Linked DNA regions of Homo sapiens. The protein of the gene in region 1 purifies or fractionates together with the protein of each later gene. This does not show direct contact. Each region holds a gene or a part of one and is shown in the gene's direction. Other genes may lie near its edges. The genes, in order: NT5DC2, SIRT4 and TRMT61B.

Region 1 (3,634 bases):
TGAGAACACCCCCTTGCTGGCATGGGTCCACTTGAGCAGGTGGGCCTTTACGGAGGAGGGATGGGGGTTGCCCGGCCCGTGGCCCAGCCACAGACTGGAAGTCATGCCCTTTACCTGCACCCCAGGCCTTTCAGAAAACTCGATGAGAAGGGCTCACTTCAGTGGGACCGGATCACCCGCTTGGAAAAGGGCAAGATCTATCGGCAGGTAAGGGCCATCTGGGGAGAGCAGCATGTGGTGGGGGCATGGGGCCTAGCTAGGGCCCCAGGCTGTGCAGAGGCAGCCTCTGAAGAAGCAGCACAGCTCCTTGGCCCTGAGCAGCCTCACACAGGCAATGGCTGGCAGGGAGCAGGTCTGGGTGGCCTCGAGAGCTTGACCTCTGGGTCAAGCAGCCTGGCTTTGAATTCCTAACTCCACTACTCAGCAGAGGGAGCCTGGCCTGGTTGCCTGACCTCTGTGCCTTGCTTCCCTTGTCTGCAAAAGAGGTGTAATACTCTCTACTGAAGCTGTGGTATAAAGCTCTCAGAATGGCCAGTGCGCCAGGCACCGTGGCTCATGCCTATAATCCCAGCAGTTTGGGAGGCTGAGGCTGCAGGATAGTTTGTTGAGCTCAGGAGTTTGAGACCAGCCTGGCCAACATGGCGAAACCCCATCTCTACTAAAAATAGAAAAAATTAGCGGGGCATGGTAGCATGCACCTGTGGTCCCAGCTACTCCAGAGGCTGAGGTGGGAGGATCACTTGAGCCCAGGAGTTCGAGGCTGTGGTGAGCTGTGATCACACCACTGCACTTTAGCCTGGGCAACAATGCAAGACCCTGTCTTCAAAAAACAAGAATGGTCAGAGATCGTGAAATGCCTGATGAATGGTGTCATTTCTTGGGGTTGAGCACTCTGCTGCAGCCAGAACAAGTCTGGTTGGGGGCAGCTCACTGGGTGATCTAGAGAAACTCCTCCTTCCTACCTGGCTAGGAAAATGAGAGGGACTGGTGTTGAGGTGGGATTAGGTGTCTATGAGCAGGCAGTGATTAAGGTTTAGCCCTGGCTGGAATGCGGAAATCCTGGCTGAGCTGGGCTTCTTCAGGCTAGGGGTTCTAAAGGCCTTGGGGCTGGAGGAGGGGGAAGCCAGCAGCTGGCCAGGGGAGCAATGTGGAGGTGGCCAATGCCCAGCCTGGCCTGCAGGAAACACCCCCACCCTCTCAGCCCTGCCCACTTCTCTGCCTCCCACCCTTCCGCACCCAAACTCTCCACAGCCCTCGGGCCCAGGTGCGTCCCTTCAGCTCTGAGGGCGCTGCTCTCCCCTGCCTTGGCATCCAGCCTCAGCTAAAGAGGGTCATACACCTTTGTGAGAAACACATGACTTTCTTCCCTGGCAGCTTTCAGGCAGTTCTTTATGCCCAGTATTCTGAAGCTGCTTTCCACTGTGTGTTGGATCCTGCCTGTCAGTCACTAGGAGTCTGTCAGTCTCCTGCCCTTTGAGACTCTTTCTCTTGGTCTGGGGCCTGCCTGGGCCTCTGCCCCTCCACTTGAACTTAGTTCAGCAATTGGCTTCTCCCACACCACCTGTTTCCCCCAGCGCTTCCACTTCTGAGGCTTGGAATGCACAGACTGCTTCAAGAACTGTGCTTGCTGGGTGTCAATTATTCTCGCTTTTGGGGTGTGGACTCCTACCCTGGTGGCTGCTGCCTGAGCACTAGTCTGGTGATTCCTGCTCTGGGCCGCTCAGTTTCTGCCACCCTGTGAGCTTCCCCAGTTACATGTGGGCCTGGCTGAGTGTCTCCATCTTTCTCTGGCTCCAAGATGCTGGTGGCCCCGGTGAGGTCTGCCATTGGTCTGCCAGGTCCCTCTGCACTGAGGCAGGGGAGGCCAGCAAGGACTTCAGGGCTGCAGAGCCTTCCCTGCAGTTTCTACCTTACAAACAGGGATCTAATCCCTAACCTGGGGTACGTGTGAGACCACAGGGAGAAGGCCCTCGAGGCATGGGCACCATGCCAGGCCTGTAGGGCACCTTCCTGCAGCAGGCAGAATCCCCTTCCCAAGTAGGAGGGGAAAGTGACAAGAACCAGGGCCCAGGGAGGGAGCAGCAAGGCCATGGGAAAGGGCAGCCAGCATCCGGCTGGATTTGGGCTGCCTCTGGGGATTCGGGAGGGAGGACTGGTGGAGGACAAGGCACACTTGGCTCAGCAGCATTCCCCTCCTCTCCCTAGGGAAACCTGTTTGACTTCTTACGCTTGACGGAATGGCGTGGCCCCCGCGTGCTCTACTTCGGGGACCACCTCTATAGTGATCTGGCGGTGAGGGAGGCAGGGCTGGGCTGCAGTGGGGGAGGGCCAGGAAACCCCCCCCCCCCCGCCCCCAGCAACTGGCGCTGAGCCCAGTTCTGCCGCCCCACCCACCAGGATCTCATGCTGCGGCACGGCTGGCGCACAGGCGCCATCATCCCCGAGCTGGAGCGTGAGATCCGCATCATCAACACGGAGCAGTACATGCACTCGCTGACGTGGCAGCAGGCGCTCACGGGGCTGCTGGAGCGCATGCAGGTGTGGGCCGGGGTGGCTGTGGGAGGGCCAGGGCGGTAGCCTCCTGGGTGCACACACCCAATGCACACTTTGTGTCCCCAGACCTATCAGGACGCGGAGTCGAGGCAGGTGCTGGCTGCCTGGATGAAAGAGCGGCAGGAGCTGAGGTGAGCAGGTGGGGCCAGGGCAGGAGTCCCAGCCAAGCCACCACCCCAGGCCCACCCCTTGAGCGCATCGTGTCTCCCTCGCCAGGTGCATCACCAAGGCCCTGTTCAATGCGCAGTTCGGCAGCATCTTCCGCACCTTCCACAACCCCACCTACTTCTCAAGGCGCCTCGTGCGCTTCTCTGACCTCTACATGGCCTCCCTCAGCTGCCTGCTCAACTACCGCGTGGACTTCACCTTCTACCCACGCCGTACGCCGCTGCAGCACGAGGCACCCCTCTGGATGGACCAGCTCTGCACCGGCTGCATGAAGACCCCCTTCCTTGGTGACATGGCCCACATCCGCTGAGGGCACCTTTATTGTCTGGGACAGGCCCTCAGCCCCTCCTGCCCCATCCACCCAGACAAGCAATAAAAGTGGTCTCCTCCCTGTGCATGCTTCTGCTTTCAGCCCCAGCCTCGTCACTTGACTGTGAGGATCCTCTGGGTGTCAGGGAAGTCCTCCTCCAGCAGTGAGTCCTAGAAGAGCAGGGTTGGTGGTGGAGGGTGTGACCAGGGCCTGGGCCCATCCCACATCTGCCACACTTCTTCACTTCCATGCTTACATCGAAGGGTTCACAAAAGGTGTCGCTGCCAAAGACAGGGTTGGGGACAGAGACCAGGGTGGGGTTGGTCCCTTCTTGCCACGGTGAGAAGTCGTCATCAGCATCATCTTCCGCCTGGGAGCAGCAGAGGGGTGAGTGGCGAGGCGCCTCAAGCGAGATCCAAGGACCCGCCATGGCAGCCCCAACCCAGCCCTACCTGGAAGGCAGAGAAGCCAAAGCCCATGGGCTTGCCTCGGGCACGGAGGTAGAGAGCTCCGGCCACCAAGCCAAGCAGTGCTCCAGCGGCAAGCACAGCCCCCACGCCTGCCGCCACAGGTGGGGCTTCAGGCGCCAGCACTGCCTGCTAC
Region 2 (3,648 bases), on another chromosome or scaffold:
AGGGGTTTATTAGTGGTTTCTGAGCAAGCAAGCAACATGATAAAAATAGCATTTGAGGAAGGCTAAACAGGATTAAAAAGAGCAGGTCAGGGAGGTCAGCCTGAAAGACCTAGACTAAGGTGGTATCCAGGGAATTTGAGTTAATGATGCTTATGGATTCATTAAAACAATTTTTTCCGCCGGGCGTGGTGGCTCATGCCTGTCATCTCAGCACTTTGGGATGCCGAAGCGGGTGGATAACCTGAGGTCGGGAGTCAAGACCAGCCTGACCAACATGGAGAAACCCTGTCACTACTAAAAGTACAAGAACAACAAAAAATTAGCCGGGCATGGTGGCACATGCCTGTAATCCCAGCTACTCGGGAGGCTGAGGCAGGAGAATCGCTTGAACCTGGGAGGCGGAGGTTGCGGTGAGCCAAGACTGTTGTGCCATTGCCCTCCAGCCTGGGCGACAAGAGTGAAACTCTGTCTCAAAAAAAACTCACAATTTTTTTCATGAAGAAAATCTGTTCTTTTAATAATGAAAATTTCAAACTTCACAAAAGTAAAGAGAATTGTATAATGAATTCTCATATACCATCACCCAGATTCCAAGGTTTTATCAAGATTTTGTCATGTCTACTTTATCCATTCTGTCTCTTCTTAAGCATTTTAAAACAATCCAGGACTTCTTGACATTTCACAGGGGCCTTTTTTTCTTTTCTTTTTTTTTTTTTTTTGAGACAGAGTCTCACTCTGTCGCCTAGGCTGGAGAGCAGTGGTGAGATCTTGGCTCACTGCAACCTCCACCTCCCGGGTTCAACCGATTCTCCTGCCTCAGCCTCCTGAGTAGCTGGGATTACAGGCATGCACCACCATGCCCGGCTAATTTTTGTATTTTTGGTAGAGACTGGGTTTCACCGTGTTGGGCCAGGCTGGTCTCAAACTCCTGACCTCAGGTGATCTGCCTGCCTTGGCCTCCCAAAGTGCTGGGATTACAGGCATGAGCCACTGTGCCCGCTTTCTTTTTTTTTTTTTTTTTTTGAGATGAAGTCTTGCTCTGTCACCTAGGCTGGAGTACAATGGCATGATCTTGGCTCACTGTAACCTCTACATCCTGGGTTCAAGCAATTCTCCTGTCTCAACCTCCTGAGTAGCTGGAATTACAGGTGTGCACCACCACACCCGGCTAATTTTTTTGTATTTTTGTAGAGACAGGGTATCACCATGTTGGCCAGGCGGGTCTCAAACTCCTGACCTCAACTGATCCACCCATCTTGGCCTCCCAAATTGCTGGGATTACAGGTGTGAGTCACCGTGCCCGGCCTGGCCTTTTTTTCTTTTTTAGACAGGGTCTGGTTCTGACACCCAGGCTAGAGTGCAATGGTGCCATCATAACTCCCTGTAACCTAGAACTCCTGGGTAATTAGAACTCCAGCTAATTAAAAAATTTTTTTTGGCTAGGCGTGGTGGCTCACGTCTGTAGTCTCAGCACTTTGGGAGGCCGAGGTGGGCAGATCACAAAAATTAGCTGGGCGTGGTGGCAGGCGCCTGTAATCCCAGCTGCTCGGGAGGCTGAGGCAGGAGAATCGCTTAAGCCCAGGAGGCGGAGGTTGCAGTGAGCCGAGATCGCGCCATTGCACTCCAGCCTGGGCGACAGAGCAAGACCCCGTCTCAAAAAACAAAGACAAGCCAAAAAAATTTTTTTTGTAGAGAGAGCGTCTTGCTGTCTACCCAGACTGGTCTGGAACTCCTGAGCTCAAGCGATTCTCTTGCTTTACGCTCCCAAAGTGCTGGGATTACAAGGTGTGAGCCACCATGCCTGGCCACAGGGGTTCTTTTAAGAGAAGAAAATCAACATAATCTGATGGCTGACTAGAACTAAAAGGAGAAAAATGAGGCTGGTTGTGGTGGCTCACACCTGTAGTCCCAGCACTTTGGAAGACTAAGGCAGGAGGATTGCTTGAGCCTAGGAGTTCGAGGCTGCAGTGAGCTATGATCATGCCACTGCACTCCAGGTAAGAGCCACCACGCCTGGCCAAGACCCTGTCTCTTTTTTTTTTTTGAGACGGAGTCTCGCTCGTTGCCCAGGCTGGAGTGCAGTGGTGCTATCTCGGCTCACTGCAAGCTCCGCCTCCCGGGTTCACGCCATTCTCCTGCCTCAGCCTCCCGAGTAGCTGGGACTACAGGCGCCCGCCACCACGGCCGGCTAATTTTTTGTATTTTTAGTAGAGATGGGGTTTCACCGTGTTAGCCAGGATGGTCTCGATCTCCTGACCTCGTGATCCGCCCGCCTCGGCCTCCCAAAGTGTTGGGATTACAGGCGTGAGCCACCACGCCCAGCCTGACCCTGTCTCTTAAAAAAAAAAAAAAAAAAAAAAAAAATAGGCCGGGCGCAGTGGCTCATGCCTGTAATCCCAGCATTTTGGGAGGCCAAGGCGGGCAGACCACCTGAGGTCAAGAGTTCGAGACCAGCCTCAACATGGAGAAACCCCGTCTCTACTAAAAATACAAAATTAGCCGGGCGTGGTGGTGCATGCCTGTAATCCCAGCTACTCGGGAGGCTGAGGCAGGAGAATTGCTTGAACCTGGGAGGCAGAGGTTGCGGTGAGCCAAGATCGCGCCATTGCACTCCAGCCTGGGCAACAAGAGTGAAACTCCGTCTCAAAAAAATAAAAAATAAAATAAAAAAATAAAAACAGACACAAAGTGCTCTCCCTCACTGGCTCAAGCTCTGGTGATTGGAGAGGTGAGAAGGGGGGCCAGGTGCAGTGGCTCACACCTGTAATCCCAGCACTTTGGGAGGCCAAGGCAGGCGGATCACCTGAGGTCGGGAGTTTGAGACCAGCCTTACCAACATGGAGAAACCCCGTCTCTACTAAAAATACAAAAAAAATTAGTCGGGTGTGGTAGAGCCTGCCTGTAATCCCGGCTACTCAGGAGGCTGAGGCAGGAGAATCGCTTGAGACCAGGAGGTGGAGGTTGCGGTGAGCCAAGATCATGCCATTGCACTCCAACCTGGGCAATGAGAGTGAAACTTGCTCTCAAAAAAAAAAAAAAAAAAAAAAAAAAAAAGAGGTGAGAAGAGAACCAGGAGACACTGTGTCCTGGAAACCAAGAAGGAGAAGCATTTTAGAAGGAATGGTAATAGACAGTGGCAAATTCAGCAGATGAGCAAGGGAAAGTATAGAGGGAAAAACGCAGGTTTGGGCATTAAGGAAATCAGCAGGCAAGGCATTTGCAGTCATGTTAAGGATAAAAGTGAGCTATAGCAGAAGGTTAGGAAGGAGTGTATAGGAAGGAAATTGATGGGCTGGGCGCAGTGGCTCACACCTGTAATCCCAGCACTTTGGGAGGCCAAGGAGGGAGGATCACTTGAGGCCAGGAGTTTGAGACCAGCCTGGGCGACACAGTGAAACACCGTCTCTACCAAAACTACAAAAATTAGCTGGGCGAGATGGCGCGTGTTTGTAGTGCAGTCCCTGCCACTCAGGAGGATGAGGTGGGAGGATAACCTGAGCCCAGGAGGTTGAGGCTGCAGTGAGCTGAGATCGTGCCACTGCATTCCAGCCTGGGCAACAGCCAGACCCTGTCTCCAAAAATAAAAAAAATAAAATAGAAAGTATGGCTAAAATGGGGTGGGGATTGTGTGTTAGGGAAAGAAAGCAG
Region 3 (3,648 bases), on another chromosome or scaffold:
TGATCTCCCTGTTAGAATTACATAATTCCATCTTAGTATTAAAAATATGACCAGAGGCAGAGTGCAGTGGCTCACACTTGTAATCTCAATATTTTGGGAGGCTGAGGCAGGAGGATCATTTGAGCCCAGAAGTTTGAGACCAGCCGGGGCAACATAGGGAGACCTTGTCTCTACAAAAAATAAAAAATTAGCCAGGTATGCTGGCACACACTTGTGGTCCCAGCTACGCAGGAGGCTGAGATGGGAGGATTGTTTGAGCCCAGGAGTTTGAGGCTGCAGCGAGCCATGATCTTGCCACTGCACTCCAGCCTGGGCAACAGTGTAAGATCCTATCTCAAAAAAAAAGTGAGGGGGCAGGTGCCGTCACTCACACCTGTAATCTCAGTGCTTTGTGAGGCCAAGGCAGGAGGATTGCTGGAGGCTAGGAGTTCAAGACTAACCTGGCCAACATAGCAGGACCCCATCTTTATAAAAAATAAAAAAAAAATTAGTTGGGCATGGTGGTACATGCCTGTGGTCCCAGCTACTTTGGAGGCTGAGGTAGGAGGATTGCTTGAGCCCAGAAGTTCGAGGCTGCCGTGAGCTACTATTGCACTACTACACTCCAGTCTGAGTGACAGAGACCCTGTCACCAAGAAAATTTGTTTACTAAATTTAAAAAAACAGTTTTTATTAATATCATCCGTAATATTTGTGTTAACAAAAACAATTCCAATTATATGTTTGGCAAGTGGGTCCTCCAATCTAGTAATAGCATAGTCTCTTTTTTTTCTTATATAGCAGGGCTCCCCTACCCCCAGGCTGAGGACTGGTACCAGTGTGTGGCCTGTAACAGGGAACCGGGCCACACAGCAGGTTAGCGGTGGGTAGTGAGCATTACTGCCTGAGCTCCATCTCTTGTCAGATCAGCCATGGCATTAGATTCTCATAGGAGTGCAAACTCTTGTGAACTGTGCATGCACCAGATCTAGGTTGCATGCTCCTTATAAGAAACTAACTAATGCCTGATGATCTGAGGTGGAACAATTTCATCCCAAAACCATCCCCCTCTCCCCAGTCTGTGGAAAAACTGTCTTCCACGAAACGGGTCCCTAGTGCCCAAAAGGTTGGGGACCGCTGTTATATAGTATCTTAATTCTAAATTAGAAGTTCATCATTTGGCCAGGCACGTTGGCTCACACCTGTAATCCCAGCACTTTAGGAGGCCGAGGCGGGCAGATCACCTGAAATCAGGAGTTTGAGACCAGCCTGGCCAACATGGTGAAACCCCATCTCTACTAAAAATACAAAAAATTAGCTGGGTGTGGTGGTGGGTGCCTGTAATCCCAGCTACTTGGGAGGCTGAAGCAGGAGAATCGCTTGAACCCAGGAGGCGGAGCTTGCAGTGAGCCAAGATTGTACCACTGCACTCCAGCCTGGGTGACAGAGCGAGACTCTGTCCCCCCAAAAATAAGAAGTTCATCATTTTGAGCTGGGCACACTGGCTCACACCTGTAATCCCAGCACTGTGGGAGGCTGAGGCGAGCGGATCACCTGAGGTCAGGAGTTCAAGACCAGCCTGGCCAACGTGGTGAAACCCCATCTCCACTAAAAATACAAAAATTAGCCGGGCATGGTGGCAGGCACCTGTAATCCCAGCTATTCGGGAGGCTGAGGCAGGAGAATCGCTTGAACCCGGGAGGCGGAGGTTGCAGTGAGCCAAGATCGTGCCATCACACTCCAGCCTGGGGGACAAGAGTGAGACTTCGTCTCCCAAAAAAAAAAAAAAAAAAAAAAAGGAAATTCATCATTTTATGCAGAGATTATATAGTAAATTCCTAACTGGTCTTCCTGCCTCTTGATTTTTCTCCAGTAGATCCTGTATTCTTCTGCCAGATTAATCCTCATAAAATGCCATTTATATCACCTCAGTGACACACCCTAGTTGCTTATCAGGCTGAGTTCTAATGCCTCATACTGGCATTTAATTCTCTGCCTATCTCTCCTGAGATAACAAACTGGATTTATTCTACCTCTGCTTTGTTTAAAGCTGTTTTTACCTTGTGATTGTTCCCATAAATTGTCTACTCTTTGTCTTTAAACTAGGCCATCCTGCTACTCTATGAACTTATTGTCTGTAATTTTGGTATTATTCTGAAGTGTTGCCTTATTTGTTAATTGATTCTTGGATCTCTTTTATTTCATCAAGTGAAATATAAACTGAAGGCAGGTCCAGAGTCTGATTCGTTTTTTCACTCCCTTCTTCTGCACACCCAACAATGTAAGATAAGACTAGGTGCTTAGTACATATTTATTGGTCGCTGAGTCACCCATACTGTTTTCAATCATAGGATATTAATATGATTCTCTCAATGATGGATATCAACCCAGGTGATACTGTTTTGGAAGCTGGCTCAGGCTCTGGTGGAATGAGCTTATTTTTATCCAAAGCAGGTAAGAGATTGGACTGAGCTGGATCTCAGTAACAAAGAAAACATTCAATTTGTTCATAATAACAGAAAGGTATAAAGATATTTGGGAAAATACCTAACATTGAGGTAGCATTCTCCTAGAATCTGAAAGTAAGCAACTATTTTTCTTTCCATTCTGTACATTTATTCCAGTCAGTCTCTTTCTAATCCTCCCTCAATTTTCTTTGCTTTGTTTTACTTTCTCCATGCTCTCTAATGCTGCTTCTTTTTTCTTAAGTATACTTTTTATTGGAATATAATATGGCTACAGAAAAGTGTGCAGATCATAAGTGTATATCTCAATGAATCTTTGTATAGTGACCACTCATGTACTTATTACCGAGATCAAGGTAGGGAGTGTCCCTGCCCCACAGATGCCTCCTCATGTCCCCTCCCAGTCCTTATCATCACCAAAGGAAACCACTATTGTGACTTTTATCATCACTGATTAGTTTTGCCTCCTTCGAACTTATATAAAATGGAATCATACAGTATGTGCTCCTTTGTATCTGGCTACTCTCATTCATTATTATGTTTGTGAGATTCACTCATTGCATGCAGCAGTAGTTCTTTCATTTTAGTTGCTGTATAATACTCTCTATTTAAATCACAATTTACCTATTTTACTGTTGATAGACATTTGAGTTGGATATTACAAATAGTGCTGCTTGGAACCTCCTTGTGTACTTGTCATGTTATTGTTGAATACTAGTGCCAGGTGAATACTTAGCCTGAGGGAATATGGAAGGACGTTGTCAGCTGTTGGGGGGAGAGTTATATATCGTTAGGGCCAAAGAATTATAGTAGGTGTTCATAAAGAAATTAATCATAGTACAGAGCTATTAAGTAAAAAGCTAGATCATGAAGAATTATCTTTTTTTTTTCCAGAAAGTCTCTAAAAATTGTCAGTTGGTAAAAGTACTGCTTGAAGGTGGGTGTCTGATCAAAAATCAAGAGGTGTATATTAAACATATATATTTTTTCATGTTCCTACCACTTAATTTCTAGTTACTTTTATGCTAGTTGATTAGTACCTCTTTGCCTACCTAATTTCTCTGAGTGTCAGGGTTGCTTTGGGTGGTCTGTCTGTGCAGTGTTCTCTTCCCTACATAATACTAGACTGCTGAATAGTCACAGTACTTTCTTTGAGTAGATTTTATAAAGATTACAGATAGAAATATGCTGAAATTAAACTCAC

What was found.
Region 2: the proteins of NT5DC2 (region 1) and SIRT4 purify together in Homo sapiens (co-immunoprecipitation; one large-scale study listed by IntAct). This does not show direct contact.
Region 3: the proteins of NT5DC2 (region 1) and TRMT61B purify together in Homo sapiens (co-immunoprecipitation; one large-scale study listed by IntAct). This does not show direct contact.

What each region holds. Positions count from the first base shown.
Region 1 is NC_000003.12:52,523,867-52,527,500, reverse strand, and holds the end of NT5DC2 (5'-nucleotidase domain-containing protein 2), read left to right. Parts: intron 1-125; coding exon 126-207; intron 208-2,205; coding exon 2,206-2,292; intron 2,293-2,397; coding exon 2,398-2,538; intron 2,539-2,619; coding exon 2,620-2,684; intron 2,685-2,769; coding exon 2,770-3,031; 3' UTR 3,032-3,114; downstream 3,115-3,634. Other genes in the region: STAB1 (stabilin-1), read right to left, coding at 3,145-3,201, 3,288-3,401, 3,484-3,630. UniProt on the Homo sapiens protein: Promotes dephosphorylation of tyrosine 3-monooxygenase TH which decreases TH catalytic activity and leads to reduced synthesis of catecholamines including dopamine, noradrenaline and adrenaline.
Region 2 is NC_000012.12:120,308,711-120,312,358, forward strand, and holds part of SIRT4 (NAD-dependent protein lipoamidase sirtuin-4, mitochondrial), read left to right. Parts: intron 1-3,648. UniProt on the Homo sapiens protein: Acts as a NAD-dependent protein lipoamidase, biotinylase, deacetylase and ADP-ribosyl transferase. Catalyzes more efficiently removal of lipoyl- and biotinyl- than acetyl-lysine modifications.
Region 3 is NC_000002.12:28,863,802-28,867,449, reverse strand, and holds part of TRMT61B (tRNA (adenine(58)-N(1))-methyltransferase, mitochondrial precursor), read left to right. Parts: intron 1-2,330; coding exon 2,331-2,433; intron 2,434-3,648.